Linked DNA regions of Homo sapiens: regions 1, 2, 3 and 5 are each linked to region 4. The links come from fine-mapping of genetic effects on gene expression. A gene starts in region 4. Each other region holds a variant in brackets. All regions are shown on one strand. Distances are from middle to middle. Region 1 overlaps PAOX (polyamine oxidase). Region 2 has its middle 21 kb from the start of FRG2B. Region 3 overlaps TUBGCP2 (tubulin gamma complex component 2). Region 4 holds the start of ADAM8 (ADAM metallopeptidase domain 8). Region 5 holds the start of MIR202HG (MIR202 host gene).

The links.
Region 1: its variant is fine-mapped to the expression of ADAM8 in whole blood (TOPMed, PIP above 0.99).
Region 2: its variant is fine-mapped to the expression of ADAM8 in whole blood (TOPMed, PIP above 0.99).
Region 3: its variant is fine-mapped to the expression of ADAM8 in whole blood (TOPMed, PIP above 0.99).
Region 5: its variant is fine-mapped to the expression of ADAM8 in whole blood (INTERVAL, PIP above 0.99).

What each region holds. Positions count from the first base shown.
Region 1 is chr10:133,381,596-133,387,558 of GRCh38, forward strand. PAOX (polyamine oxidase) reads left to right here. Exons shown (of 7, transcript NM_152911.4): 3 at 1-64; 4 at 2,365-2,617. Among named protein-coding and RNA genes, the nearest start is that of PAOX, 5.3 kb to the left of the region's middle. The variant C/T (reference allele first, on the strand shown) is at 2,551.
Region 2 is chr10:133,603,294-133,609,256 of GRCh38, forward strand. No RefSeq gene overlaps it. Among named protein-coding and RNA genes, the nearest start is that of FRG2B, 21 kb to the right of the region's middle. The variant C/T (reference allele first, on the strand shown) is at 3,285.
Region 3 is chr10:133,296,488-133,302,450 of GRCh38, forward strand. It overlaps TUBGCP2 (tubulin gamma complex component 2), which reads right to left. Exons shown (of 18, transcript NM_006659.4): 3 at 3,498-3,626; 4 at 2,940-3,116; 5 at 1,465-1,624. Among named protein-coding and RNA genes, the nearest start is that of TUBGCP2, 9.4 kb to the right of the region's middle. The variant G/A (reference allele first, on the strand shown) is at 3,461.
Region 4 is chr10:133,274,164-133,280,126 of GRCh38, forward strand. It overlaps ADAM8 (ADAM metallopeptidase domain 8), which reads right to left and starts at 2,705. Exons shown (of 23, transcript NM_001109.5): 1 at 2,609-2,705; 2 at 1,321-1,424; 3 at 1-72. The coding sequence starts at 2,654. It overlaps TUBGCP2 (tubulin gamma complex component 2), which reads right to left. Exons shown (of 18, transcript NM_006659.4): 18 at 4,472-5,738. The coding sequence ends at 5,603. RefSeq lists enhancers at 198-847, 885-1,144, 2,148-2,795, 4,110-4,159, 4,650-4,729 and a silencer at 2,395-2,954.
Region 5 is chr10:133,244,265-133,250,227 of GRCh38, forward strand. MIR202HG (MIR202 host gene) reads right to left here and starts at 3,621. Exons shown (of 2, transcript NR_108079.1): 1 at 3,527-3,621; 2 at 2,215-2,786. It overlaps MIR202 (microRNA 202), which reads right to left and starts at 3,356; the gene lies at 3,247-3,356. RefSeq lists enhancers at 46-1,245, 577-1,429, 2,998-3,512, 4,029-4,543 and a silencer at 2,793-2,912. The variant G/A (reference allele first, on the strand shown) is at 2,963.

The DNA of each region.
Region 1 (5,963 bases), 110 kb after region 4:
TCGGTAGAGTGTGAGGATGGAGACCGGTTCCCGGCGCACCATGTCATCGTCACCGTGCCCTTAGGTAGGTCAGGTTTTCAGCCCAAACCCCCATCCCAAGTGCCCCCGCCTCTGCCCTTACCCTGCCTCAGTTGGCTCTGGGGCGTTTGCTTGTGTACGAAGCTCACATTTTCGTTCTAGTAAGTTCCAGATAGGTGGAAGGAATGATTCTGTTATGTTTTGTAGCAATTACATGCTTTGGAATTAAGGGTTTCACCGTAAGAAAAAACGCGAGTAAGTATGCGTCCTGCTCGCTTGGAGGTAACCGTTTAGGGTTGCGACGGCCTTGGAGATTAACCACACCGCACTTTGCTGCAGACAGGAAAAGGCATGAAAGGCCTGGTCTGAAGGTCAGGCCTGGGGTGACCTGTTGAAGGAGCCGTGTGTATAATTCTGTTTAATTCTAGATCTGGTGCTTTAGATCTGTCCTTGAGTAGAGGTGGTTTGAAGCTGTTTTATAAAAGGTGGAGATGGTTGAAAACAGAGTTACTAGGATAATTGCTGTCAACTGGACATTTGCTTCCCACGGGTTTCACGCTGCCGTGGGTCTCTGCCTGAGTTATCTCATTGACTCAGGCAGCCTTGGGAGGTGTCTGTCATTGTCCCACATATGACAGATTTGAACATCTAGGCAAGTAGAGAGAAGTCACTTAATTGCCCAAGTTCACAAAGCTAGCGATTGCCAGCACTCACTTGGAAATCTAGGTGTGATTGACAGGTGTGTGATGAAAAGCAGGAGCCTCCGCAGCCCTAACTCCTGTCTCCAAGGGGTGGCTTTGCCCTCCCCGGGGCAGGGATGAGCACTGAGACCCCATTGCTGTTTCCCAGAGATGCAGTCGTCGTCCACACATGAACATCTGCTGCTGGCTGGGCACGGTGGCTCACGCTTGTAATCCCAGCCCTTTGGGAAGCTGAGGCAGGCGGATCACCTGAGGTCAGGAGTTCGAGACCAGCCTGGTCAACATGATGAAACCCTGTCTCTACTAAAAATCCAAAAATTAGCTGGGCATGGTGGCAGGCACCTGTAATTCCAGCTACTTGGGAGGCTGAGGCAGGAGAATCGCTTGAACGGGGGAGGCAGAGGTCACAGTGAGCCGAGATGGTGTCATTGCACTCCAGCCTGGGTGACAGAGTGAGACTCTGTCTCAGAAAAAAAAAAAAACCAAAAATCTGCTGCTCAGTTTGCCTGTTTTTGTTTTTTGTTTTTTTCTTAATAGAACTTGTCAGTGTTTCCAAATCAGCACACATAGATCTACAGCGGTCTTTTTTGTTTCCCTCCAGTGGCTTTGTTCATTCACGTTTGGAGTAAGTGCTTGCAGGCCCTGCTAAGTGCTGATCACGGGGACATTGTCAGTAGATACATTGCTACAACTGTGAGCATTTTGTTTATAAGGAGCCAGTTCACAAAAATTAGCCGTCGGGTGCCTGTAGTCCCAGCTACTCAGGAGGCTGAGGCTGGAGAATTGCTTGAACCCAGGAGGCAGAGGTTGCAGTGAGCCGAGATTGTGCCATTGCACTCCAGCCTGGGAGACCAGAGCGAAACTCCGTCTCAAAAAAAAAGGAGCGGGTTAATTTGCCACGCAGTGTTTTCTTGTCATTATTTCATAAGCATAGATGGAAATTTAGGTGGCCTTCACTTTTTCTATTTCATGCAGTTTTACATGTGCACTTAAAAACACTTGTGTTGGCCAGGCACGGTGGCTCACGCCTGTAATCCCAGCACTTCGGGAGGCTGAGGCAGGTAGATCACCTGAGGTCACGAGTTCAAGACCAGCCTAACCAACATGGCAAGACCCCATCTCTACTAAAAATAGAAAAATTAGCTGGGCCTGGTCGTGGGTGCCTGTAATCCCAGCTATTTGGGAAGCTGAGGCAGGAGAATCACTAGAACCTGGGAGGTGGAGGTTGCAGTGAGCCAAGATGGCATCGTTGCATTCCAGCTTGGGCGACAGAGTGAGAATCCATCTCAAAAAAAAAAAAAAAAAGAAAACCCAAAAAACAAAAAAACAAAAAACACTTGTGTGAAAGGTGGGGAACAGAGGCTCACGCCTGTAATCCCAGCAGTTTGGGAGGCCAAAGTGGGAGGACTGAGCCAGGGAGGTCAAGGCTGCAGTGAGCCCTGATCATGGTGCTGCATGCACTCTAGCCTGGGCAACAGAGCAAGACCCTATCTCAAAAACAAGGACAAAAAAGTAAAACTGCTTGTGTGAATGTGTCTGTAGGATAAACACCAGCAGGGGAAATTGCTGGATCCAAGGTCTGGACAGACAGGACTTCCGTGGAGGGCTTTATGTGATGTAAGAAGAGTCCAATTCTGAATTCCAGGTTTTCTTAGGGAACATTTGGACACCTTCTTTGACCCTCCCCTGCCGGCTGAGAAGGCAGAAGCAATCAGGAAGATAGGCTTTGGGACCAACAACAAAATCTTCCTGGAGTTTGAGGAGCCCTTCTGGGAGCCAGACTGCCAGCTGATCCAGCTGGTGTGGGAGGACACGTCGCCCCTGGAGGATG[C/T]TGCCCCTGAGCTACAGGACGCCTGGTTCCGGAAGCTCATTGGCTTTGTGGTCCTGCCTGCCTTTGCGTACGTTTGCTCCCTGAGAAGTTCTGCGAGTGGCTGGCTCATAGGCCTTCATCTGATGGAGGACGCAGCAGTGTGTCTGTTCACTGCAGGGTATTTCTAGGGGGTTTAATGGGTAGGGTTCCCATGAGCGCCCCCCCACCAGGTGCTGGCTGCACCTGGGCCTGACCCCTGCGGGGACAGATGGCGCCCTGCTGTATGCGGGTTGTCAGCGTCCCTCAGGGCCCAGAATGTGTTTGTAGACTTGCAGGCAGGCTCAGTCTTCAGTCAGTGGGAACGTGTTTACTGGAATGTTGCAGGGAGCTGGGGCTTGTAGATACAGAAGAACTTTGAAACACCATCTGCCCATACGTGGGGAGACAATACTTAAATGGGATGAAATAATTGAAGGAAACATTCCGAGAAGTAATGGAATGGGAGACCCACAGAGGAAGGGCTCCCTTGTATGGGCTGGCCCTCTTAGAAACAGCATATCTAGACCACGTGGCGATTCAGGAGTTAATCCCATGAGTGATGTGGGGATGGAGGGACTGACTTTTCCAGCAAGATTAAAACACAAAGACAGCCTGATATAGTCAGATGGCAGAAATAATTCCACGTTTCCACTGAGAGATGCCGCAGGAGGGGGCACCAAGTTCTTGTTCTGAAAGACCCGGGATGGGGTGGGATGTAGGGCATGCCTGCCAGATGGTTCATAGTTGCCATCCACTGGGAGCAGGAGGCTGCAGGCTGCAGACCAGCCCTGCACCTGTGACGGGGGAAGCCTGTGTGTCTCCTTCACACTGAAGAGAAAACTGGCATTTCGGCCAGGCGCGGTGGCTCATGTCTGTAATCCCTGCACTTTGGGAGGCTGAGGCGGGTGGATCACCTGAGGTCAGGAGTTCGAGACCAGCCTGGCCAACATGATGAAACCCCGTCTCTACTAAAAATACAAAAAATTAGCCGGTGTGGTGGCACGCACCTGTAATCACAGCTACTCAGGAGGCTGAGGCAGGACAATCGCTTGAACCTGGGAGGCAGAGGTTGCAGTGAGCTGAGATTGTGCCACTGCACTCCAGCCTTGGCAACAAGAGCAAAACTCTGTCTAAAAAAAAAAAGAAAGAAAACTGGCATTCCAGGTGTTGAGATAGGCCTGGGTTGCTGGTGGGCAGCCGGGTGGGTGACTGTGTGTAGAGCCACCTGCTCCAGGCCCAGCCCCACCTCCTGTGCTCTCTTGCTTAGGACATCAGTGGGACCCTGAGTGCTTTGGTGGGACCCTGTCTGTGGCACGGGGTGGTAGCTGTCCCATCCTTTTATATACCTGCAAAGGGTTGGGGATCTCAAAGAGCTTTTGTTTATGTGAGTCACATCTGTAAATTTACCCCATGATAAATAAAATATTTTTTTGTTTTTGAGATGGAGTCTCGCTCTGTCCCCCAGACTGGAGTGCAGTGGTGCAATCTTGGCTCACTGCAAGCCCCACCTCCTGGGTTCACGCCATTCTCCTGCCTCAGCCTCCTGAGTAGCTGGAACTACAGGCACCCACCACCACGCCCGGCTAATTGTTTGTATTTTTAGTAGAGACAGGGTTTCACCGTGTTAGCCAGGATGGTCTCGATCTCCTGACCTCGTGATCCGCCCGCCTCGGCCTCCCAAAGTGCTGGGATTACAGGCATGAGCCACCGCACCCAGTCACCACATGATAAATTAAATTATTATTTGAGATGATAGTAACAAACCTATTCTATGTTAGCATAAATAACATTTTTAAATGAATATTTTCTTAAAATTTAATGAAGGGTGGCAGCAGTTTTGTCTTTTCTGCAAAACTTTTTTTTTTTTTTTTTGAGACAAGGTCTCTCTGTCACCCAGGCTGGAATGCATGGAATGCAGTGGCGTGATCTCAGCTCACTGCAACCTCTGCCTCTTGGGTTCAAGCGATTTTCCTGCCTCAGCCTCCCGAGTAGCTGGGATTATAGGTGTGTGCCACCATGCCCAGCTAATTTTTGTAGTTTTAGTAGAGACAGGGTTTTGCCATGTTGGCCAGGCTGGTCTCGAACTCCTGGCCTCAAGTGATCCGCCCACCTTGGCCTCCCAAAGTGCTGGGATTACAGGTGTGAGCCACCACGCCCGGCCTTTTCTGCAAAACTCTTCAGTGTTACACTTAATAGAAGACATCTGGGTTCTCAGGCCTCCTCTGCATTCATTCTGTGGTGATGTTTTATTTTGGTTGAAACATAGGAAGAAAATGTGGATCTACATGGATATGTGGTTGGAAGAAGGAGTGATATTTGTTTATTTATGAGATGGAGTTTTGCTTTTGTCGCCCAGGCTGGAGTGTAATAGCTCGATCTCGGTTCACTGCAACCTCCGCCTCCCGGGTTCAAGCAATTCTCCTGCCTCAGCCTCCTGAGTAGCTGGGATTACAGGTGCCCACCACCACACCCGGCTAATTTAGTATTTTTAGCAGAGATGGGGTTTCTCCATGTTGGTCAGGCTGGTCTCGAACTCCTGACCTCAAGTGATCTGCCCACCTTGGCCTCCCAAAGTATTGGGATTACAGGCGTGAGCTACTGCGCCCGGCCAAAGGAGTGATATTTAAATAGCTTTTGAAATGATTGTGGGTATTCTTTGATACTACCTCAAAAGTCAAGATGTAGTAGTAATTCCTTAAAGGTTGGCCAAATATGAAATTGGAGAGCACACCAGTGAATTTTTTGTCTTCTGTGACACTGAAATCTATTTGTCTGTCTTGCACTTTAAATGGATCTTTTATCTATCCATGGCTTTAGTCATTGGAAAATACTAGGCTGGGCTTGGTGGCTCATGCCGGTAATTCCAGCACTTTGGGAGGCCAAGGTGTGCAGATGGCTTGAACTCAGGAGTTCGAGACCAGCCTGGGCAACATAGCAAGACCCAGTCTCTACCAAAAATACAAAAAGCTAGCCAGATGTGGTGGTGCGTGCCTGTGGTCCCAGCTACTGGGAGGCTGAGGTGGGAGGATTGCTTGAGCCCAGGAGGCGGAGGTTGCAGTGAGCTGTGATCAAGCCACTGAACTCCAGCCTGGGCAACAGAGGGAGGCCATGTCTTAAAAAAATAAAATATATATATATTGGTTCATGTAGTCTTCCAAATGTTGATACATTTCATTATACAATATAAAAAATCAAATTTATTAACATACCACTGATCTCAGAAAAGTCTTTCAGGATTGGGAAGCTGTTATGCTGTTGGTGGCAGAAACAAGCTTTTCTAAAATTGCAGTTTTTGCTTGAGAGCTTAAACTTTGTCATTGTCTATAAATACTATTTGTTAGTTGTTTTCCTGTGATAGAGACACTTTGCTCATTTTCAAGAAAATGTCACCAAAT
Region 2 (5,963 bases), 330 kb after region 4:
ACATGATTAAAGAAACACATAAAGTGAAGAATATTCTATCATGTATACTTCTCCTTTTACCAATTTCATTATTTTCCTTTATGAAAATTCTGTCTTGCTGTTTTCATGTTCTTTCTGTTTTCATTTTATTTCTGTTTGGAGGGATTTCTTTAGCCATTCTTGAAGGGTAAGTCTGCTAGCAACAAATTCTCTTAGTTCTCTTTCATCTGAGAATATCTTTATTTTTCCCTTCACTCCAGCAGCATGGTGTTGGTAGAAGAGCCGAGCCAGGACTAGCTTGTCTGTCATAATGTAAAAAAGTCTTGGAACATGTCCTGGGTCCAGGGTCTAAACCCCCTTGTGGCCTTTGGAACACCAAGCTCTGTGCCAAAGGGTGGAAGGCTGCCCTGTGGCACCACAGTCTAAGCCCAGGGCATAAAACCCCTCATGGCTTGAATGGAATCCAGGGCTCAGGGCGTCAAAACCCTCATAGCCTCTGGAATGTGTCCAGACTTGCTGGCTCCTTGCTTCTTGCTCTCCCAGGATCATAAATTGATTGTATCTTGAGTTGGAAGAACATGTTCTCTATTATCTCAAGTAGCAGAGCATGTTCCATGTGCTTCAAAGGAAATGCTAAACCGTCACAGCTATGCTTGATGCAGCGCTACCTTTCTACCCCCACATCTGCACATCCTCACCACCTGCTTCTTTGTTTGATCACCAATAAATAGTATGGGATCCCAGAGCTCAGGGCCTTTGCAGCCTCCATACCAGCATTGGCCCCCTGGACCCATCTTATGCACTCTTAACCTGTCTTTTCTCATTCCTTTGACTCTGCTGGACTTCGTAGCCCCCACAGCCTGGTATTGGGTCTGATCATGCCAGTATTCCTAGCTCCCAACATGGTGCTATGAATACCCTGGTGAAGGAACACTAGAGCGTGTGGAGGTGGAGGATGCATCATCAGAGGACACCTGAGGACGACTGAAAGAAGCTAGAATAAATGTTACAGGAGAAAAATATCCTTCTTTCAGTTCTGTCCAACAAGGACCTAAAGAACCATATACTGATTTTATTGCTCGGCTCCAAGAGACTATGCATAAAGCTGTAACTGACAGAACAGCTCAAGATGTTGTAATACATCTCCTTGCATATGATAATGCCAATATAGAGTGTCAAGCTGCTATTAAACCTATGAGACGGAAGGTCATTTGGCTGAATATATTAAGGCTTGTGATGCATTGGGGGTAACTTACATAAGGGCTACTCTTCTAGCTCAAGCTATGACTGGACTAAAGGTGGGAAAAATATGCCCTGTTTCTCAGGCTCTTGTTTTAATTGTGGGCAATTTGGACACACAAAAAAAAGTAATATAAAAAGGAAATCAACAGGCGAGGGATACTACCAGTAAGCAACAAAGAAGTCCTGGTATCTTCCCCTGATGCAAGAAGGGCAATCACTGGGGAAATCAGTGTCATTCTAAATTTAGCAAAGATGGGCAACCTTTTTTGGGAAATGGGAAGAGGGGCCCGCCTCAGGTCCCTCAACAAACCGAGGTGAATCCGGCACAGTCAGTGCCGTTACAAATGTACAATAATTGTCCCCTGCCACAGCAGGCTGTGCCGCTGCAGATCTTTGCAGCACAGTTCCCATTTCCTTACATCCTGGGGAGCCACCAAAGAAGGTCCCCACAGGAGTTAGGGGCCCTTTACCCTCGGGAACAGTTGGGCTATTGCTTGGAAGGTCTAGTTTAAATTTAAGAGGTGTCACTGTACATACAGGAATAATTGATTCTGATTATACCAGAGAAATTCAATTAGTTATTAGTTCCTCAACTCCGTGTCTGCTTCCTCAGGAGAAGGAATTGCTCAGTTATTACTATTACCTTACACCAAGCTAGGAAGTAGTACAGTAAAAAGAACAGGAGGCTTTGGTAGTACAGATCCAGCAGGAAAGGCTGTCTATTGGGTTAATCAAGTGTCTGACAAAAGACCTATTTGTACAATAACCATTCAAGGTAAAGACTTTGAATGATTAGTAGACATTGGAGCTGATGTCTCTATTATTGCTTTAAATCAATGGCCCCGAAATGGCCCAAAGAAAAGGCTTCAGTGGGTATTGTTGGCATAGAGACTGCCTCAGAAGTTTTTCAAAGTTCTTTAATTTTGCCATGCCAAGGGTTGGATGGCCAAGAAGGGACAATTCAACCCATTTACACCTATTCCTGTCAATCTATAGGGTAGAGTCTTATTACAATGATGGGTTGCTGAAATATCTATTCCTGTGGATCAGTATAGTAATAACAGTAAAGAAATGATGAGAAAAATGGGATATCTCCTGGGGAAAGTACTAGGAAAAAATGAAAATGGCCAACCAGAACCTTTAGAATTAAAAGGGCACACAGATCGAACTGGATTAGGGTATCATTTTTAGGAGAGGCCATTGCTGAGCCTCTGGCTCCCATTCCTCTTGTTTGGTTAGCTGCCAAACCAGTTTGGGTAGAGCAGTGGCTGCTGAAACAGGAAAAACTGGAGGCTTTAAAAGAATTGGTGCAGGAACAATTGCAAAAGGGACACATAGAGCCTACTTTCTCTCCTTGTAATTCTCTTGTGCTTGTTATTAAGAAAAAATCAGGTAAATGGAAAATGTTAACAGCTTTAAGGGCTATTAATGCTGTAATTCAACCCACGGGCATGCTGCAACCAGAGCTGGCTTCCCCAACTATGATTCCTAGATACTGGCCTCTCATAGTGATAGATTTAAAAGATTGCTTCTTTACTATTCCTTTAGCTACCCAAGATTATGAAAAATTTGCTTTTACTGTTCCTGCTGTAAATAACAAAGAACTAGTGGACAGATACCATTGGAAAGTATTACCAGAAAGCATGTTAAGTAGCCCAACTCTTTGTCAAACTTATGTCAGACAAGCTATTAAGCCAGTTAGAGAACAATTTTTAAAATGTGATAGTATCCATTACATGGATATTTTATGTGCAGCTGAAACTAGGGAGGAATTAATGTTATGCTACAAACAATTAGAAAAGGCTGTAATGGCAATAGGGTTAATCATAGCCCCTGATAAAATCCAAACTTCTACCCCCTTTCAATATTTAGTAGTGAAGGTAGAATAAAGTTATATTAAGCCTCAAAAGGTTCAAATTCGAAGAGATAATTTAAAAACTCTAAATGGTTTTCAAAAATTTTTAGGAGATATTAATTGGATTCATCCCACATTAGGCATTTCTACTTATGGTATGTCTCACCTCTTTGCTACCTTACAAGGTGATTCTGAGCTTAATAGTAAA[C/T]GCTCTGTATCCAAAGAAGCATTAGAAGAACTTCAATTAATTGAAGAAAAAGCACAGGTGAAACGAATTGACCCTACACAGCCATTACAGTTTTTAGTTTTTCCCACTAAACGTTCACCTACAGGAGTTATTGTTCAACAGAATGATCTGGTTGAGTGGCTTTTTCTACTTCACAATGCAACTAAAACGCTCACCCTGTACTTAGATCAAATTGCTTTACTAGTAGGACAAGCAAGGCTGCACACAACAGAGTTAATGGGATATGATCCAAATCGGATTATAGTTTCATTAAACAAACAACAAATTCAGCAAGCTTATATTAATTCCCAGGAATGGCAAGTTAATTTGGCTGGTTTTATTGGTGTTCTTGATAGACATTATCCTAAATTCAAAATATTCCAGTTTCTTAAGTTAACATCATGGATATTGCCTTCCATTACTCAAAAAGCCCCTATTGAAGGGGCCATTACTGTTTTTACTGACGGGTTTGGTAATGGAAAAGACTCATTTGTAGGACCTCAACAACAAGTTTTTCAAACTGGCTTCACATCTGCTCAATGGGCTGAACTTATGGCTGTAATTATGGTGTTAAAAACCTTTAAACAGCCAGTTAATATTGTTTCTGATTCAGCTTATGTGATACAAGCCACACAAAATATTGAATGTGCTTTAATTCACAATGTGACTGATGAACAACTTAATCTTTTATTTCATTCTTTATAGCAAGCAGTACAACAAAGACACTCCCCTTTCTATATCACTCACATAAGAGCACACGTTAACCTCCCAGGCCCTTTGACTAAACTTAATCAAAGGGCAGATGCACTGGTTTCTGCAGCTTTTGATGATGCACAGACAATCCATTCTTTAGCCCATCTTAATGCCACAGGTCTGAGAAAAATATATAATTTATCATGGAAACAGGCTAAGGAAACTGCTCTGCCTGTCAAGTTTTACATCTACCACATCAAGGAGCAGGAGTTAACCCTAAAGGTTTATCTCCAAATTCCATCTGGCAGATGGATGTAACACATGTTCCCGCCTTTGGAAAATTGTCTTTTGTTCATGTTTCAGTAGATACTTATTCACATTTTATCTGGGCCACATGTCAAACAGGGAAGCTACAGCTCATGTTAAAAGACATCTTTTATCTTGCTTTGCAGTTATGGGAATTCCAAAAAAAATAAAAACTGATAATGGCCCAGGGTATTGCAGTAAAGCCATGACTGCATTTTTTCAGCAGTGGAATATTACTTATACTACAGGAATTCCATGAAACTCACAAGGACAAGCAATAGTTGAAAGAGCTAATCATACCTTAAAAACTCAAATACAAAAACAAAAAGGGGGAAATCAGACATATAAATCCCCACATATGCAATTACACTTAGCTTTATTTTAAATTTACAAAAAGATCAACCCATGACTGCAGCTGAACAACATCTGACAGGACAAAAGGAAAATAAAAGGCTGGACAAGATATATGGTGGAGGGATGCACATACAAAAAGGTGGGAAAAAGGAAAAATAATTACATGGGGAAGAGGATTTGCTTTTGTCTCTCCAGGTGACAATCAGTTGTCTGTGGGTGCCCACCAAACATCTGAAGATCCATCATGAGCCACACCAGGAAGAGAGGACCCTGGGAAGAGCCAGAGCTCCCTATACAAGTGATGGCATGAATGAACATCTCAGAGACAAAGAAAAAGACTGTGAATACTCGCCAGGTGGATCTTCCAACATGGGGCCAAGTCAAACTGGCACAGATGGCAGAGGCCAACCTCAGAGCACAGAACAAACCAAAAACAACTAGTAAGTTAAAGGTGGCCATGCTGGCAGTACTGTCTGTGGCAGACCTTTTGGATTCAAAGTTGTGTCCAGCCACCTTTTATGTTAGCAATAGGAAATGTTATTCTTGACATAAATACCCATTCTATCACATGCCCCGAATGTCACTTGTTTAGTTGCATTAACTCAACCTTTGATAAAAATCAAACTTTCTTGTTAATTAGAGCCAGAGAAGGAGTTTGGATCCCTGTGTCTCTAAATAGACCACGGGATGCATCACCATCCATTCATATTGTAACTGAGATTCTTAAAAACCTGTTATCCCATTCAAAAAGATTCACAGTTGCTCTTGTATTTGCTATAATTGGCCTCATTGCTGTTACCACTACTGCTGCAGTAGCTGGTGTGGCTTTACACTCATCTGTGCAGACTGTTGAATTTGTTGATAAATGGCAAAAGAATTCTACGAAATTATGGAACTCTCAGGCCCAAATAGATCAAAAGATAGTCAAATCAGTGATCTCTGTCAGACAGTAATTTGGATGGGGGATCACATCCTAAGTTTAGAAACTAGAATTCAAATGCGTTGTGTTTGGAATATATCCGATTTTTGCATTACTCCTCATAGTTACAATGAGACAGAACACCAATGGGAAAGAATTAAACGCCATCTAGAGGGCAGAGAGGAAAATCTCACCTTCAATATTGTAAAACTGAAAGAGCAGGTTTTTGAAGCCTCTCAGGCTCACTTGGCCCTGCCCCCTGGCACTGATATTTTAAACAAGGCAGCTGATGAGTTGTCTGCAATCTATCCTCTTAAATGGATTAAGACCATTGGAAACTCTACACTTGTAAACTTTGTTCTAGTAACTGTGTGGTTGTGCTGTCTCCT
Region 3 (5,963 bases), 22 kb after region 4:
TTTTTTTTGAAACAGGGTCTCGCTCTGTTGCCCAGGCTGGAGTGCAGTGGCACGATCACAGCTCACTGCAGCCTCGACCTCTCAGGCTCAAGTGATCCTCCCACCTCAGCCTCCTGAGTAGCTGGGACTACAGGTGCACGCTACCACACTCGGCTAATTTTCACATTTTTTGTAGAGACTAGTCTCGTCCTGTCGCCCAGGCTGGTCTCGAATTCCTGGGCTCAAGGAATCCACGCACCTCACCTCCCTAAGTGCTGGGATTACAGGTGTGAGCCACCATGCCTGGCCGAAGTAGACTGTTTTCCATACTTTTCATTAACTTACAGCATGGTTTTCTATACTTCTCATAACTTACAGCAGGGTTTTTCTATACTTTTCATTAACTTACAGCAGGGTTCTGTTTGCTTGGGGATGAGGAAAACAGGTGGATTTCACGTCACCGTTCTCCAGGGTTTCCGGCAAAGGCAAGGGTTGGCCCCTTGGTGCCCACATTGCAGAGCCGTGAGTAGTGGGGAAGCAGACCACGCTCCATGCTGCCTCTTGAGTTTGGACTAACGGGGATGGGGCAAGATAAGCAGGTATGCTCTGTCCTTAGTTTGTGAAATCTCATTTTTCAATCTAAAAATGTACTTGACTAGGCGTGGTGGCTCATGCCTGTAATCCCAGCACTTTGTGAGGCCAAGGTGGGCAGATCACCAGAGGTCAGGAGTTCGAGACCAGTCTGGCCAACACGGCAAAACCCCGTCTCTACTAAAAATATAAAAATTAGCCAGGCGTGGTGGCGCCTGCAGTCCCAGCTACTTGGGAGGCTGAGGCAGGAGAATCGCTTCAACCTGGGAGGTGGAGGTTGCAGTGTGCCGAGATCACGCCACTGCACTTCAGCCTGGGCGACAGAGCGAGATTCCATCTCAAAAGAACTAAAAATAAATAAAAATAAAAATGTACCCATGAATTGTGACAGATGAACACATCCCAGGTCCCCAATAACAACGTCTTGAAATGACTGTGTGGTCTCACCCGCATCTTGTTTACACGAACACTACTTAAGAGGCCTCTGAGAATACTGCTGTAACAGAATCTATGGGAGTCATGAATCGCTGTTCAGAAATAAGTGCTGCACACAATTCTGATGCCTGCAGGTCTGCACCAGGGCACCAGGATGCCGGCTGGGGAGGGGCCTGCTGCAGGCTGCCCCACAGCTCTGGCAGAAGGGACAGGAGAAGAACCCTCAAGGACCCGGGTGAGCCGTTCTCTGCTGCCATCCTGGGATGGGAATATGGAGGCGGCAGCCAGTCAGCATTGAGCCTCACAACCTGAGGAAAGGCAGGCCCGGGGGAGGGCTGGGCCTGCAAAGTGTCCTGCCCAGAGGCCAGAAATAAACACATGACATACCTATCGGCAGAGCCCGGAAATCAACGCATCACGTACCTATCGGCAGAGCCCGGAAATCAACGCATCACGTACCTATCGGCAAAGCGGTGTCTGTGCTGATGCCAGCACCAATCAGGAAATCCCCGATCAGGGCAGGTCTCTCATACACCCATGCTGGGAAGATGGGGAGGTGCTGGCCTGAATTTTTTTTGTTCTGCTTGTCTCGAAGCATCTTTCTTTTAAGTTCCAGAGACTAGCAAGGACATTTTAAAAAACAAAACCAGAAAGATACACTTTAGCGCAAACACTCAACTAAAGACATGCATAGAAGCTAGCATCTACGGCAAAGATGATTACTCAATTCAACACCCACAAAGGGTCAACCACATAGAAATGAAATGCGCCTCGACATCCCTGCCTGCCACAACGTGAGGGGCTGGGGACAACAGGGCAGATGGGGAGCCCTAGCCCCTCTTCTCAGGAGTGCAGGTCCTGCAAGGGCCCCCCTGGGAAAACATGAGCACCAGCAGTGGGAACCACGGGAGAGGGTGCACCTAGGCACAGAGCCGCTGTTTCAAAGGAGGGCGCCCTGTGAACAAGCTGAATTGCTTCTTTCTGGCAGTGACTAGGTCTGAACACCACTTGATGGGTGAAGACAGGCTTCAGCAACAGACATGCATCCTTACCCTGCCGGAGAAGGGCCCCAGCGTGACAGGATGGCTCCTGACATGTGGTCAGAGAGCCTGCCCTCCTGCGCCAGTGGCCGCCAGAGGCTGATGGGGTCGGCCTGGGCTGGCCCAGCTTTCGGAAGCACTGACTCCCACTCAGGGCTGGTCAGGGACACGGGCAGATGCAAACTGTCTCTGCACGTGGCAGTAAGACCCAGTCTTCTGCCACGGCTGAGGGAGACGTGGACAGAGGCCTAGCACCATGTCCAGCACAGAACGTGCCCAGCAAGAACCGGCTGGGTCCTTGGGAGCCGCTGCACTCAACACGCACCCAGGAGGCTAGGACGCCTCAGGGACACAGCTCCAAAGGGAGTTTAAAGGTCACAAAGGCAGGAACGTGGCAGCTCTAATGAGAGAGACTGGGAGATGACTTACGTCAAAAGACCAGGGTAGGGCATAAAATCAAAACCAAGAGCAAGTAGCAAATACAGAAGGAATAATAAAAATTACTGTATTTTCGAGAATCTTGAAAATATAATGATCTGAAAGCATTCCCTCAAAATTGTCAAAAATTGGAGGAGGGAAATGGGGAGTCAGGATTGGGTAGGCTCAGAGTCACGTGGCCACCTGGCAGCACAACTCCCACGTGGGTCAGAACCTTGCTGCTATTGATTCTTGTGGTCCAGAATTCTTGGTTAAAAAAAAAACTAAACATATAGAGCTAGGTCATGATCAAGCATTAAGCCTTGGCCTCTCTAAGGGATTCATTTTCAATAAATGACAGAGAGACATGTCCTTCCAGCAGGGGCCCGGCACAGCACTGAGTGTGGGTGCCTGTGGACGCCACGGACACAGGACCTGCTGCAGCATGGAGCCTGTGGACAGCCATGGACGCAGTACCTGCTGCAGCGTGGAGCCTGTGGCCACGCTGCCAAGCTGCTTCCTCAGTTCCTCAAGCTCCTGCATGGAGATCTTGGAGGCCGCGGCAGGGACGTTGATGCTGGTGGTACTGCTGCCCACAGCAGCGGCTGCAAGCTCAGCTCTTTCTTTTGCATTCTGTTGTAAGTACTGCAGAGTCTGAAAACATGTAAAACTGTGTGTTCACACTGGGCCAGCACCTCTTTGGCCATAGGGGGAGAGTAGGGACGACACCACCAGGACGGCTCCCCAACCCTGACAGGCACCCATTAATAGCAAAGCGACGCGTGCGACAGGCAGGAACTGAGCGTGACACATGCGGGAAGCTCAAAGTGCCCCAGAGGCTGCTTCTCATGTTTACACCCAACATGGGTTATCTTTCATTCTGATTCACCAAAAATTTCCTACATGGCCTAGAAGCGTTACTGGTGTGAGCGAGGAAGAGCTGACAGGAAGATGGCGTGGAGTGAGCAGGAGACGCGACCCCACTCCCAACATGGGCC[G/A]TACGGGCGCAGTGTGGCACGTGGCATGGGCACCTACCTCTTTGTCTTCCGTGAGCTTTGACAACAGGTACACCAGCGGGTCAAGGTTCCTTGTATTTTTAGATTTCAGTTCATCATATTTCTTTAGAAAGTCTTCTGGAGTACGAGAAAACTCTGCAATTTTAACCTCAAAAGCACAAACATGAGTGATTTAATGACGGTAATTAATAAAGCACTGTAAAAAAAAACCTTTACGAAAATTGAACACAATAAGCCAATGGAATTAAATTGGGTAGGTTAAATAATTATCCCTCTGAAATAAACTAACAAAACTCATCTCCATATTGTGTTAAACTTATCCATGTTTTGAGCTAGGCAGTGGCTCATGACTGTAATCCCAGCACTTTGGGAGGCCGAGGCTGGTAGACTGCTTGAGTCCAGGAGTTCAAGACCAGCCTGGCCAAAATAACAAAACCCCATTTCTACAAAAAGATTCAAAAATTAGCGAGGCGTGGTGGCACTTGCCTGTGGTCACTACTTGGGAAGCTGAGATGGGAGGATCACATCAGCCTGGGAGGTTGAGACTGCAGTAAGACAAGATCGTGCCACATGCATTCCAGCCTGGGTGACAGAGTAAGACTCTGTCTCAAAACAAAACAAAACAAACCTTATCCGTATTTCCCATTATGGTTCCTTTCCTTTTGTGCTTCTTCGTATTATTTTAATTTTTTCTAGAGACAGGATTTCACCATGTTGCCCAGACTGCTCTCAAACTCCCAGGCTCAAGCCATCCACCTGCCTCGTCCCAAAGTGCTGGCGTTACAGGTGTGAGCCCCTGCGCCCGCCCTTTTATGCTTCTTCAGGTTTGTACTGGAGAGTAGCGACTTACACTTCCCCCCAGTAGTTTATGCGTTCATTGTATACATTTCACTGTATTCCCTTTTATGCTGCTTCAGGTTTGTACTGGAGAGTAGCAACTTGCATTTCCCCCCAGTAGTTTATGCGTTCATTGTATGCATCTCACTGTGTTCCCTTTTATGCTTCTTCAGGTTTGTACTGGAGAGTAGCGACTTACCTTTTCCCCCCAGTAGTTTATGCGTTCATTGTCTGCATCTCACTGTATTCCCCGCAGTAGTTTATGCGTTCATTGTATACACCTCACTATGTTCCCTCTGGAATTTGTTATTATGTGCAACCCTAGGGGTTATGCTTTTTCTTTTGGACGGAGTTTCGCTCTTGTTGCCCAGGCTGGAGTGCAATGGCGTGATCTAGGCTCACCGCAACCTCCACCTCCCTGGTTCAAGTAATTCTCCTGCCTCAGCCTCCTGAGTAGCTGCATTACTGGCACGCACCACCACGCCCTAATTTTTGTATTTTTAGTAGCGATGGGGTTTCTCCATGTTGGCCAGGCTGGTCTCGAACTCCCAACCTTAGGTGATCCACCCGCCTCGGCCTCCCAAAGGGCTGGGATTACAGGTGTGAGCGACCGTGCCCAGCAGGGGTTATGTTTTACTCAGTGATTTACAATGCTTCCTTCAGAATGAACTAAACATGGGTGTCCCCAAGTCTCTATTCCACTCGGCTAATTTGCCTAATTATCCTTGTGCCATTGTTAACCTGTTTAAATAACTGAAGCTTCATAATGTATTTTTTAAAATAGACTTCAAATTCAAAATCATTTTTACTGAAAATCTATACTTCTGAATTACATATTATCTGAATAAAGAAATAATACCTTAAAGGCATTTCAACATGGTTAATACCAGTCCCTCCCTTTTTTTTTTTTTTTTTTTTTTTTTTTTTTGAGACAGAGTCTCACTCTGACGCCCAGGCTGGAATGCAGTGGCACGATATCTCGGCTCACTGCAAGCTCCACCTCCCGGGTTCACGCCACTCTCCTGCCTCAGCCCCCCGAGTAGCTGGGATTACAGGTGCCCGCCACCACACCCAGCTAATTTTTTGTATTTTTAGTAGAGACGGGGTTTCACCGTGTTAGCCAGGGTGGTCTTGATCTCCTGACCTTGTGATCCACCTGCCTCAGCCTCCCAAAGTGCTGGGATTACAGGTGTGAGCCACCGCGCCTGGCCCAGTCCCTCCCTTTTTATCCACAGGAATGCACATGTCAGGACTCTCCCACCTCATGGCTGCAGGGGACAGAGTGGGGAAGAGGGAGGGTTCTAGGCCCAGCTTTCTCCATAGGCCTCCATTTACTCATCTGCACAGTGGGGTGAATCACAGGAGCTGCTGGGGGGAGTCAGGAGAATCAGAGCTGAACACACACACAGACCAAGTGCTGTCTGCCATCGTTGCCGGTACCATTGAGGCCACCCAGGAACGGGCACTCACCCTGCATCTTGCACGGTACACAGCCCTGCACCAGGGGCAGTGCTCACCCTGCACCATCCTGACCCCGGGGTGGCGCTCACCCTGCACCCCGCACAGCCCTGCACCAGAGGTGGCGCTCACCCTGCACCCTGCACCAGAGGTGGCGCTCACCCTGCACCCTGCACCAGAGGTGGCGCTC
Region 4 (5,963 bases):
CTTCCGCAGGTGGAGGGTGAAGTTGTGCCCTGTGGCCCCAAGGACGTAGCTCACCCTCTCTGGGTGCAGGCCCTGAGCGAGGAGGGAAGGGTCCCAGGTGAGCAGCCTGCCCGGGCTGTGCCCACCTCAATCCTGGGGGCCAGAGAAGCTCAGCTGGGGGGGAAGGGGTGCCGGCCTCCAGCCCCAGGTCAAGGCTCCATCCTGGAGGGTCCACAGCCTCAGGCAGGGTAGAGGGTGGAGGGTGGAGGGTAGGGGGCAGGGGGTGGGGGGTGGAAGGTGGAGGGTGGAGAGTGGAGGGTGGAGGGTGGAGGCGGGGGGCGGAGGGCAGAGGGTGGGGGGCGGGGGGTGGAGGGTGGAGGGTAGGGAACGGGGCTGTGCTGAAGGCGACCGGCGGAGCCCAGCACTTGGGTAGACAGGAAGGACACGGTGCTCCTCGGTCCTCCCAGGCCTCAGTTTCCCCATCTGACCACGCATGGGTAACGACAATGCCCCTTCCCCGAGAAAGCATAGGGTGGGGGAGGCATAGCCTCAGCCAGGCAGCAAAGGAGGTGGGTGGCGGGGATAGCACGCACAGGCCCCTCCAGCGACAGCTGCCTGCCTCCAGGACCCATCCCTTCCAGCAGCTGCCGGACCTGGTGGTGCCTGCAGAGCCTCCTGCTGGACCACTGCATCTCCAGCCCCCATGTGCAGGCTGGGGCTCGGCCTGCAGAGCTCTGGGACAGCCTTAGCTGTGCCACCGGCTGGATGAGCCCAGGGCAGCGGGCAGGTCGGTAGTAGGTTCCCCGGATGCTGAGGTAAGGACAGGGCTGGGGCCGGAACTGCCCTCCCTGGAAACAGGTGCACACATGCATATGCCGTGCACATGTGTGCACACCCACCCACTCAGGCTTCAGGAATCACCCTCGGGCAGCCCCAGTCGGGGAGGGGGGCATTCTCAGTTTCTAGCCCTGGGAAACCCCCGCCAGGCCCCCCCCCCAACACAGGAAGGTGTGTCAACTCTGCGGTGAGCCAGCGTCACTTCTCAAAGAGGAATTTGGCTTATCAGCCTCGCCAAGTGAAACTGGGGAGGGGCCCGGGGCCAGCACAACCTGCCCCTGCTCCCTTCCAGGGGTCCATAGAGCTCCTGAAGGAACGAGGAGGCTGGGAGCCCTCAGGCAGTGCTGGAGGGAGGAACGGAGATGGGCCCCAGGGGGCTAGAGCTGTACAGGGCAGCCCCAGACACCCACTGGCCTCTCACCACTTTCTGTAAGCTAAAGCTCCTTTCACAAAAATAGGCTCAGGGGCCAGCCAGGGACCCTCCCCAGGCCAGCTTAGACTCACCAAGTGGGAGGGCAGAGCTCGGCGGACTCGGGGGCCTGGCAGACGCCACGGCAACACGACCTCATACTGCTCCATGAGGGCCCAGGGCCGGCTGGGGGCAATCGCTGCAGGAGGGAGGGTCAGCAGGCATGAGGGGCCGGGGGGCAGGTTTCCTTCCCAGAGGCCTCCTGGGCCCTCAGATTCTGTCTCTTGCTGGGCTTGACCCTCCCCTGGGGAACTCACCAGATAGCTCTGGGACAAAGACTCAAGTGAGGGTTCTGTGCCTAAAAGACCCCAGGAGCGCCCCCAGGCATGGCCGGTGGGCCTGTGTCCTGCAGCACCCACACACAGTGCTCAGAGACGCTGTGGGTGCCAGCGGGTGCCAGTGACTCCACAGGTCTCCAGGCTGTCTCAGATCTCTGGAGGGGCCCGAGGGCAAGGATGAACCTTCCCCCCAGGGAGGAGGACTCGGGCCGCCGACCTGCCCGTTTCCATTCTCCTCCTCCATTCTTCTGATCATCTGATCGCATCTAACTGGGGAGCAGGAAGTGCCTCCCGGAGGCTGTTCACCTCCCAAGAACTGGAAACTCCCTGGTATCCGAGAGCAGAGGGCAGGGTCCCAGCATGCAATGGGCAGGGTTTCGGAGACCACCAACCCCAGGACCCTTTGCTCCCATTAAAACACAATAGTGGACGTGTCTCCATGACCACATCTCCAACCTGGAGAGGCAGCAGGGGAGCAGCCAGCCCCTATCTGCCCAGGAAACTGGCGGGAAGCAACCCGGCCTCCAGCCTGAAGCTCCTCAGCACACCCCAGCCCAAGTCACTCCAGGAGCAGGGGTGGGATCCAGGGTCAGCAGCCCCATGTCCTCCCCCAGGCAGGAGACGGGTCCCCTCAGCCCACACCCCTGCACTCCAGGCCTCAGCTTGTCTGCCCTCCCTTCCCTCCTCGGCTAAATAGTGGGGGTGGGTAGCCCCACAGGTGAATCCCAGGAACCCAGGGCGCCTCGCGCAGCAGGTGAAGCGTCCTGCTTGGCCCGGCCCCGACCCCACTAACAAGCTCAGAGGCGGGACTTCCCTCTCACAGTTCACCTTTGAAGGTTCCCTCCGACCTCCCCGGCCTCCCCGGCCCGGGGCTCTCCACCCAGAGACCACTGTGCACCTGATGGCCCGCTCCCAGGGACCAGCCCGAAGCCGGGCCAGGGTGCGGGGTGCGAGCAGGCCAGGGGCTCGGGGTCCGCGTCGCGTCCTGCGGGGAGAGCCACCCTGCCCCGCGCTGCGCCCGGGACGGTTCCCTGGAACCACTCACCAGGCAGCATCATCGCGCCCAGCAGCCAGAGCCCGAGGCCGCGCATGGCCGGGTCGGGGAGCAGAGGCGGAGGTGACAGCCCCGCGGGACACGGTCTGGTTCCTGCGCTCCTGGCCCGAGGCTCTTTTCCGCGCGCCCCGCCCCGGCGCCCCGCAGCCAATGGGCCCCTCGGCCGGTGGGAGGGGCGGGGCGCGCGGCACCTGGGGGCGGGGTCCGTTTCCCCTCTCCCCACAATCCAGCATCCTCCCTTGCACAGGTGAGGAAACTCAGGCACAGCCTGTCCCAAGTCCGGCCAGAGCCCCGAGAGGGGGCCTCTCGAAGGACCCGGCGGCTGGAAGGAGGTGGCGCCAGGCAGGTCCTGGAGGGGAAGGGACTTGTGAGGGCCGCCTGGCGGTTTCAGGAGAGGGGGTCTCTGATTTCCTGGGGAACAGAAAGCCTCAGGCAGGGGCAAGTCATGGCTTTGTGGGCATAGGTTCAGCCCTGTGGGAAGCTCTGCCACCCTCCCCCCCAAGCCTGCGCCCCCTCCACCAGGCTGAGGCCTCACCGGAGTGGGATAGGCATGGGCCCGCAGGCGTCCAAGTGGGGAGGGGGAGCCCTAGGTGGGGGTCCCAGCCCAGGTGATGGCAGGTGCAGGGGCCGTCCCTAGCCTAAGATCCCCAGACAGCAGCTGACGCTGGCCGACGTGGACCAAAGCCTGCAGCAGCCCACCGTGGCCTGGCTCCGGCGTCTCCAGGCCTGCGGCCAAGCGTGCTTGCCCTTGGTGACCACATTCCCCGTGGTGGGCTCAGCCTCGAGGGTGCAGGTTTGGGCTGACACCACAGCTCCCCAGACGGTCCACCCAGGACCCCTCCCTGGGGCTTTCACAGCCAGGCCGCCCTCCTGGAGTGGGAACAGTGGTGGTGGCAGGAAAGGCAGCTCAGATGACCACACAGGGCGCTGCTGACAGATCACATGGGGGGGGGGGGCCTCAGGGCCTCCCTGGGGAGAGGCAGGGCAGGGCCAGCAAGGGGCTGGAGGGAGTCCTGCCTGGAGAGAGGGCACCAGGGCAGGGCGAGTCAGGGAACTGCACGGGCCTAGGGGCAGAGGACAGAGGTCAAGGGGCAGTGGCAAGAAGAGGCCGGGGCCTCGGACGTTATCCTGGGAGGACAGGGAACCCGGAGGATCTAAGCTGGCGTGAGTGATGCTGTCACATTTTGTCTCAAAGCCATTCTTACCCTAATGTGAATGGCATGAAAAGCAAGAAAGCAAGGGCTGGCACTGGGCCGCAGGTGACTTCTGCTGCCTGGGGGTGTGTCCGCTTGCCTGTGTGGCACAGGACGAGGTCCCCCAGGCTGCCGAGAGGCTCCCAGGTAGGGCTGGGGATACTGGCCTGTGCCTGAGCTCATGCAGGTGACCCTGTTATTATAGAACAATGGCCAGCTGGCAATCACACTTCCCTTCCTTGACCTCATGGTGCAAGTTACTCAACAGCAAAGTGCAAAGGCGGCACGCTGGCCACATCAGAGGCACAGCAAGGCCCCTGCCGACGCTGAGCTACCAGGGATTTATTCCTAAAAAGACAGGACCAGCTTGGGCCAGAACAGGCTCCTCCCGCGCTGAGGAAGTTCCACCCAATCCCACAGAACACAGCTCTCCTCTTCAGCAGGTGCCGGGGGGTCTGGGAGCCTGAACCCCACAGCCCTGGAGGCTTCCCTCCCCTCCTCCTATCACCACCTGCAAACCCCACTTCTCAAGGCCCAGGGCTTCCCAGACCCCAGGACACAAGATCAGGGGTTTCTGGGCCTCGGGGCCAGGCAGGAAAGCTAGCAGGCTCCTCTGCTCACCAGTCCGGCATTTGCACAACACTGAGACTGACAGCTTGGGTTGCTGATAAATGTGTTTACTCACAGGCCAGACCTGCACAGCCTGCAGACAAGGAGGAAGCGGTTTGTGGCTGGAGAGTTGGACACCCCCACCCCCACTCGGCGGTGCTCTCAGTGAGGCAGCCCCGGGTGAGAGCTGCCCACAACCCTTGTTCCCCGCAGGATCCTGTTCTAGCTATCCTTTCTCCCAACCTCGCCTCCAGGGCCCTTCCTCACTGCCCAAGGGGGCCGAGGTGCTGAGAGCTGAAGGTGACAACAATACACATGCAGGTCAGCAGGAAGGGGCAGCTTGGCCAGAATGTAACCAGAGCAGACCAACCTGGCCGGGCAGCCCTGAGGCTCCCAGGGCCCTGTCACACTGGGGATGGCGGTGCTGCCCACTGTAGCCCTGGAGGTGGGAAGACAGGGCAGATGATCGCCCGAGGGGGATTGGGTGTCAGTCTGCTGAGTAAGTTCTACGTAACAAGGCGGTACCGGATAGGGCGGGGTGGGGTTTCCAGCCAGCAGCAGAGCCTGCCCCTCGACCCACTCCCACGGAGGGGGAGGTGTGGGCTCCCAGGGTGCCTGAGGGCCCTGTCTGTGGCCTCCTGCCCTGGACCAGTTGGAGCAGCAGCAGGAGGAGGGTCGTGGAGGCGGGTGAGTCCTCAGGAGAAGGAACGGGGCTGCCTCTGGGGCCAAAGCAAACCCGACACCCGATGCCCGGTGGGTTTCCACAACTCCCTGACCGTTTCCAGAGGCTTGTCCCGGTTCCGACAGACCTCAGGAAGCCCGGCCCCAGCTCACCCGGAAAGATGTGGACACCAGGCCTGGATCTTACCCCACATGCATCTTTGCTTGCTCCTGGCTTAAACACCATGTATTTCCACTTTGAGGCCAAAAACACCCAAAAAGGTGATAGTGTAATTTCAAAAAGCAAACAGATTAGCAAATCCAGGGAGACATCCACCCTGCCTGGGCAGCTTCTATAAAACGAAACCCAGCGCCTTGAGAAACAAAGTGAGCTGAGTCAATCATTCCTGCTTTATATTTAAACTGCAAAGACAGAACACAGAGCATTCGATTTGAAAATTCTGGACCCATTTGCACCAGTCCCTGCTGACCCCACACCCTTCCTTCCTGTCACAGCCAGGGCTCACTGTGCGGTGACTGCGACCCTGGGTGCAGGAGCCGGGGGCCCCCGCAGGACAGGCACTTGGGGGGTGGCCTTCTGGCTCCTCTCTGCAGACAGGCGCTCCAGGCGCTCCGTGTAGAAACCATTGAAGTCAAGCCTGTGAGGAAGGACAGTGGAGCTGGGGTGCACACCCCTTCTGCGGGTGCATGCTGGGCAGCAGGGGTGTGGAAGGACGGTGCAGCTAGGGTGCACACCCCTTCTGCGGGTGCGTGCTGGGCAGCAGGGGTGAGGAAGGACAGTGGAGCTGGGGCACACACTCCTTCTGCGGGTCCGTCCTGAGCAGCCCTGCTCCTACCATGGGGAAGTGTTCAGCTACAGAGAC
Region 5 (5,963 bases), 30 kb before region 4:
CCCAGACTTGTCGGCTTCCAGGCCGTGAGGAAGTGGCAGAGTGCTCAGGGCCTCCTAGGCCACGCCAGGACCTCTGGAGCAAAGTGGGCTCACTGAACAAAAGCAGGCCTTGGCCTCCTTTAGGGGTGTTTGGTGGGGCCCTGCACAGCCCCCAGTCAAAGAAAAATCACCTGGGCCGGGCGCGGTGGCTCACACCTTTAATCCCAGCACTTTGGGAGGCCGAGTCAGGTAGATCATGAGGTAAGGAGTTCGAGACCAGCCTGGCCAAGATGGTGAAAACCATCTCTACTAAAAATACAAAAATTAGCCGGGCACGGTGGCGGGCACCTGTAGTCCCAGCTACTCTGGAGGCTGAAGCAGGAGAATGACGTGAACCTGGGAGGCGGAGGGTGCAGTGGGCCAAGATCGTGCCAGTGCATTCCAGCCTGTGCAACAGAGCAAGACACCAACTCAAAAAAAAAAAAAAAAAGGTAAGTACCAGAAGCGCTGGCCCTCCCCCCATTGCCTCTGCAGCCTGGCTGGGAGGCTCTGCCACCCCCACCTCAGAAAGGTTCCGTTCATGCCCCAGAGTGGCGGTCAGCTTCTCAGGGGACTCCTGGGGCTCCTGAGTACTCCCCAAGGCAGGGTCTCAGAGGGCTTCCTCTTGTTCCCAGGCCAGGAGGACCCTCATTCCCAGCCTGGCTGTCCACAGAAGCCACAGTGAGCCACTCCCCCATGGTGCCCCTCAGCCCCCACCTACCATTCACAGGACAACGGCCTCAGGACCGGGGGGCTGTGGCCAGGAGGCCTCCGTTTCTGGGACGCCTTCCAGCCCCGTCCTGGCCCCTGTGCTCCTTCCAATGCCCTCAGCAGGGTCTCAGTGGCTGGACCTGATACGTGGGCATGTCTTGGCAAGCCTGGACAGCCACCTTGGTGGGGTCTTGGCAGGAGCCCTGCCCATCTTCCTGGGGGAATTCATCCCTCTCCCTGCCCAGCAAGCCGCCCACCCTGCAGTACAGGTGAGGGCACACGGCCCAGCTCACCCAGCCCAGATCCCAGGGAGGGCATAGCCCTCAGAACCACAGCTCTTCTGGGGAAATGGGCACCATACTGGAGAGTGGGGCCTCTCCTTTCACAGCCCAGCAGGTGCTGTTAATTACACCGCAGCCTTGCAGGGACAGAGCTGGGCAGGGTACGAGCGCAGAGTGAGGCGGAGGGACGGAGCCAGGCGGGGTACGAGCGCAGAGTGAGGCAGAGCCTTTGGCTCCCTGGATCCAGCCGTGCCTGCATCCCCATTCTGCCGACACTGTCTGGAGTAACAGCTGCTGCTGCATGTCCGCACAGCACAGCGAGGTAATACCTGCTTTATCTGTGCAGCTTTAAAGCCCTATGTTCAGGTGTCCTGTGGAGAGTGACTCGAAGGCCTGCAAGAGACTCCCCAGCAGGGCCGACCTCCACCGTTCCCTAGGGGGCAGGGGGAGCAGCCGAGCTCGTTGGGGTGGGGGGCGTGGCTGCCCTTCCACATGTGGCCTGCGGCCCCCCGGCCGGAAGCACCCCACCCCTCTGCCTGCTGCCTGATCTTTCCCCTCGGACACCCCAGCTGCGGGCTGTGAGGGAGGTGGGAGGTGACTATCAGATGAGATTAGTGCTAGGCTTGGAGAGGAGGCGCAGCCTGGGGAGGCAGCCCCTGATAACCGGCCTGGGGGCCTCTCAGCCAGCTCATTGCTCCATTTGCTGGGCTCATTGGTGATAAAGGCTGTGGCCTTCAAAGACCTGGGCGTGGCCCTGCCGGCTGACGAGGACTCTGGCTGAAGGGTGGGGCCTCCCCGACTCCCGTTCAGGCCTCCTTTTAAGACAGCAGCCGACTGTCATTCTTTAAACAGGGCTGATGAGGGACCCCCTGTCCATTTTTCTTCAGTGGGAAGTCAAGACCGCAGTCCCACCCTGGCCATTGTGGAGGCCTGGAAGCTGCGGGGCCCCCGCCCAGGACAGACCAGTGCCCCCCACCCTCACAAGCCGTCCCTCTGGGCTCTCCCAACACTGCCGGCCGGTCCCAGGCTCTGGTCATCAGAAGGGTGGCCCCAGACCGGTGCCCAGCCCAGGCCCCCAACCGAGGCCCCAGGAGCCGTTTCATCCCCCCGTGTTTATGCATTTTTAACTAAGTTCCCCCAAGTCCACACGTGACTAATGTGACGTCCAACCACCGTGAACGAGAGGAGACCAGCACGACAGAGCTGCTTTGTCAAAATTTGTATTTATTGTCAAAACTTTACCACATCTCACACATTTAAATGAAATTAGCTCTACTGAAATTTCTGACCAGAAAATCAACTCATACCCATGATTACAAAAGTAATAAAGGTGTTAAGAAGCAACAGCCAGCCGGGCGCTGTGGCTCACGCCTGTAATCCCAGCACTTTGGGAGGCCGAGTGAGGTGGATCATGAGGTCAGGAGTTCAAGACCAGCCTAACAAGGTGAAACCCTATCTCTACTAAAAATAAAAAAATTAGCCGGGTATGGTGGCAGGCGCCTGTCGTTTCAGCTACTTGGGAGGCTGAGACAGGAAAGTCGCTTAAACCCGGGAGACAGAGGTTGTAGTGAGCCGAGATCGCGCCACTGCACTCCAGCCTGGGTGACAGAACGAGACTCCATCTCAAAAAAAAAAAAAAAAAAAAAAAGCAGCAGCAGCAAAAGTGCACAGACCCAGCGTGCACGCGTCTCCGCCACGCCTCACTCCCGTCTGCGCCTGGATCCACCGCCACCCGCTTGTATAAAAAGTGGGCCCCACACGGTGCAGCTTCGTAGTCTGCAAAGAAAATGTCCAAAGAATGAGTTGTGGATCCTCCCAGCCAGAGCCCAGATCCCAGGCACCCCGCCCCACTTCCCCCGACCACCAGGCGGCCCCAGAGCCCAGGTTGTCCCTCCCGCCACCTCCTGTAATGGGTCCACCCCCAACTCCGGTCAGACTGGTCACAGAGCACC[G/A]CCCAGCTCCAGCCCTCCTCTCTGCATCCTGGGTCCCAGCTCAGGGGCTGCAGAGATCAACCCAGGGCAGAGGCCTGGACCACGTCCTCCCCAGACACTTCCAGAACCCACACAAAAGCACACATCCACGTTTCCCTTGTTTTAGAATATTTGGCCCCTTTCTGCCCCAAGGATGTGGGGGTCAAAGCCCCGGGGCTCCCGGCCGAGGAGAAAGGAAGCAGGTGGAGTCCCAAGTCAGGAGGCAGGTGCTGCTGGAGCAGGTGCAGGTGCACTGGTGCAGGTGCCGCTGGGGAGGACCCGACCGCCCCGTTTTCCCATGCCCTATACCTCTTTAGGCCAGATCCTCAAAGAAGTATATGCATAGGAAAAAGGAACGGCGGGCGGCTCTGAGGCGGGCCGGCTCTTCAGCACTGGGAGGTGGCTGTCCTGGGGGAGGGTCCCGTGCCGGGCAGCAGGGAGAAGTCGGGACTGAGGCCTGGTGGGCACGGAGATCCTGTGGGAGTGAGGAGGGCAGAGCCAAGCCAGGGCCGAGTTCCCAGAGGCAGGCCTTGGGCCTCGTCTTACCTGTGGTCCAGCCTCCTGGGCCGCTGGCGCTGGGTAGCCCGTGAGCCTCGTGAGCCTGGGAGGAGCGGTGGAGAACTCTCTGAGCCGGGAGTTCTGCTGCTGCCGAGCGAGCTCCACATTTATGCGCAGGGGAGACCTTGGCCGCCGCTGTCACATGCAACCAGAGGGCTGCTCTGTGCCAAGGACCCCGTCGCACCCCCGCACCTGCCAGATTGGGGCACAAAGACCTGCTGTGAGAAGAGTGCTGAGCCAGGGCCCGCCGGGCGGGCGGGCGGCGAGGGCTGTGGGCCGGGGGCTGCTGGCCCGGGAGCTGGGATGGGGCCAGCCTGTCCCCCCGCCTCCTCCAACCCTTATCTCCCCACGCGCTTCTGCTTGCGTCAGGGGCCCGGAAAGCACACGTGAGCAAGAATCGCTTGTCCAGGGAAGGGGCCGACTCTCCTTCCTGGGCCTGCCCAGCTCAGCAATAAGCAGCACCTTGGGCTGCACCCGCAGCCTCCTGGCTCACAGGGACTCTCAGAACCCCCAGCCAGCGTGTCCAACACTGTCCTGGCCACTGGGAACCAGACCCCACCCCCAGGGTAGGTGGCCCTGCTTGGCCTGGGGCGGCCTCCACAGCTGGGGCTCCCTGAGGATTCACGGCATCAGGCGGACACTGGTCCAGTGAGGCCCAGAGCCTTCCCCGGGCCACAGAGCCCGCGAGCACGTGGAGAGGGGCCACGCTCTGCAGCCTTGGGGGCAAGAGTGCAGGGTCGGAGGGAGAGGGCCCCTCAGGGACAGCTGGCCAGACCCACAGCTGCCCACACAGAGCGAGACCACACAGGCAGGCAGACACCCTCTCCTAGGGCCAGGGAGCCCCCGGCCGAAGGGCCCAGGCAGGCAGCAGAACTCCTGCAGGTCTGGGGCTGTCCCTGTGTCCCAGGCTCAGGACACAAGGAAGAGGCCCAGAGGAGGCCAGGGCACAGGGCTTCCACAGGTGGCCAGGGACAGGGCTTCTGAACCCCAGCCAGCGGTCTCTCCCCAGGACGTAGGCAAGTGGAGGCTGGTGAAGGAACAAGGCTGAGGCCTCAGAGGCCTCTTCAGTGACCATGTCCTCGGGGAGACTCAACGTCGCTAGGCAGGCCCGTGCGGGCGCCTGGCCCCAGCACCTGTGATCTGTAGGGCCAGAGTCTCAGGACTGACCCGACGCAGCACCCACATGCGGCAGGGACACACAGAGACCCCCATAGACACACGTAGACACATATAGACTCACATAGACACACACAGAGACACACACAGACACACATAGACACACACAGAGACACAGACATGTAGACAGAGACACACTCAGACATGTAGACACACAGAGACACAGATGTACACAGAGACACACACAGACACGCACACAATGGACCCACACACCCCCCAGGTGCAGCGGGCCTTGACTGTTGTACGCGAGAGTCTCCTGTCCCCTGAGTGGGGAGGGGCGTGGGGGGCATGAGGGGCCAGGTGGGGCTGCAAGACTGTCCAGCGCCCTCCTGATGGCCCCCGAGGCGGCCAGGAGCCCCGTCTGGGGAAGGACGAGTGGGCCCTGCTGGGCAGGAGGAGCCATAGGGACCATGGGGATGATGGACGATGGATGATGACCCAGCCACCTGCCAGGCCACTCTGCAGACCCCCCATGGGAGCAGCCTCTGCCCCCACCTTGTGCAAACCGTTGATCTGCACGCCAGGCCAAGCAGGTGATTGTCACGACCAGCGATGGCCACAGAGGGGTGGGGGGGAGCACATCAGTCGGTCACAAGCCCTCCTGGTGGGGACATGGGGCTGGGGACAGGCCCTGCTCAGGGCTGGTCCCCCACAACGAGGCCCAGAGTGGGCACGGGGGGCTGCTGGGCTCCATCCACCTGCTGGCAGGCTGAGGGTTGCCTTCTGGGGGAGGAGGGAACGTGGAGCTCAGACACACGCATGCTCACACTCAGGCTCACGCACACTCCTGCAGGCATGCTCACATCCACACACACGTGCATGCACAATTCACACACTCAGGCTCACCCACACTCACTCCTGCAGGCACGCTCACATCCGCACACGCATGCACAATTCACACACTTATGCTTACCCTCACTCACACACGCCCATGGTCCCCCACCTCCATGAGGTCCGAGGATCCGAGGAAGAGTCCTTGGGGGGCTAGCAGGGGAGGGGCCCCACTCCTCCAGACACCTAGAACCTACACAGAGAGCCCCAGCATCACACTTCGGGGGCCTGGGCTCAAAAGGCCCCTGCAGAGCCCCCCATCCTGGGCCTCCGCCCAGCATCAGCCCTCCCTGTTTCTCCCCGTTGTTTCTCCCCGTTTCTCCCCGTTTACAGCTGCCCGGCGAGGCTTCTGGGAAACACATAATGCAAACCCTGACCTTGGGCTCCTGACCTCGGTTCTGCAAGAGGGAAGGAGGAG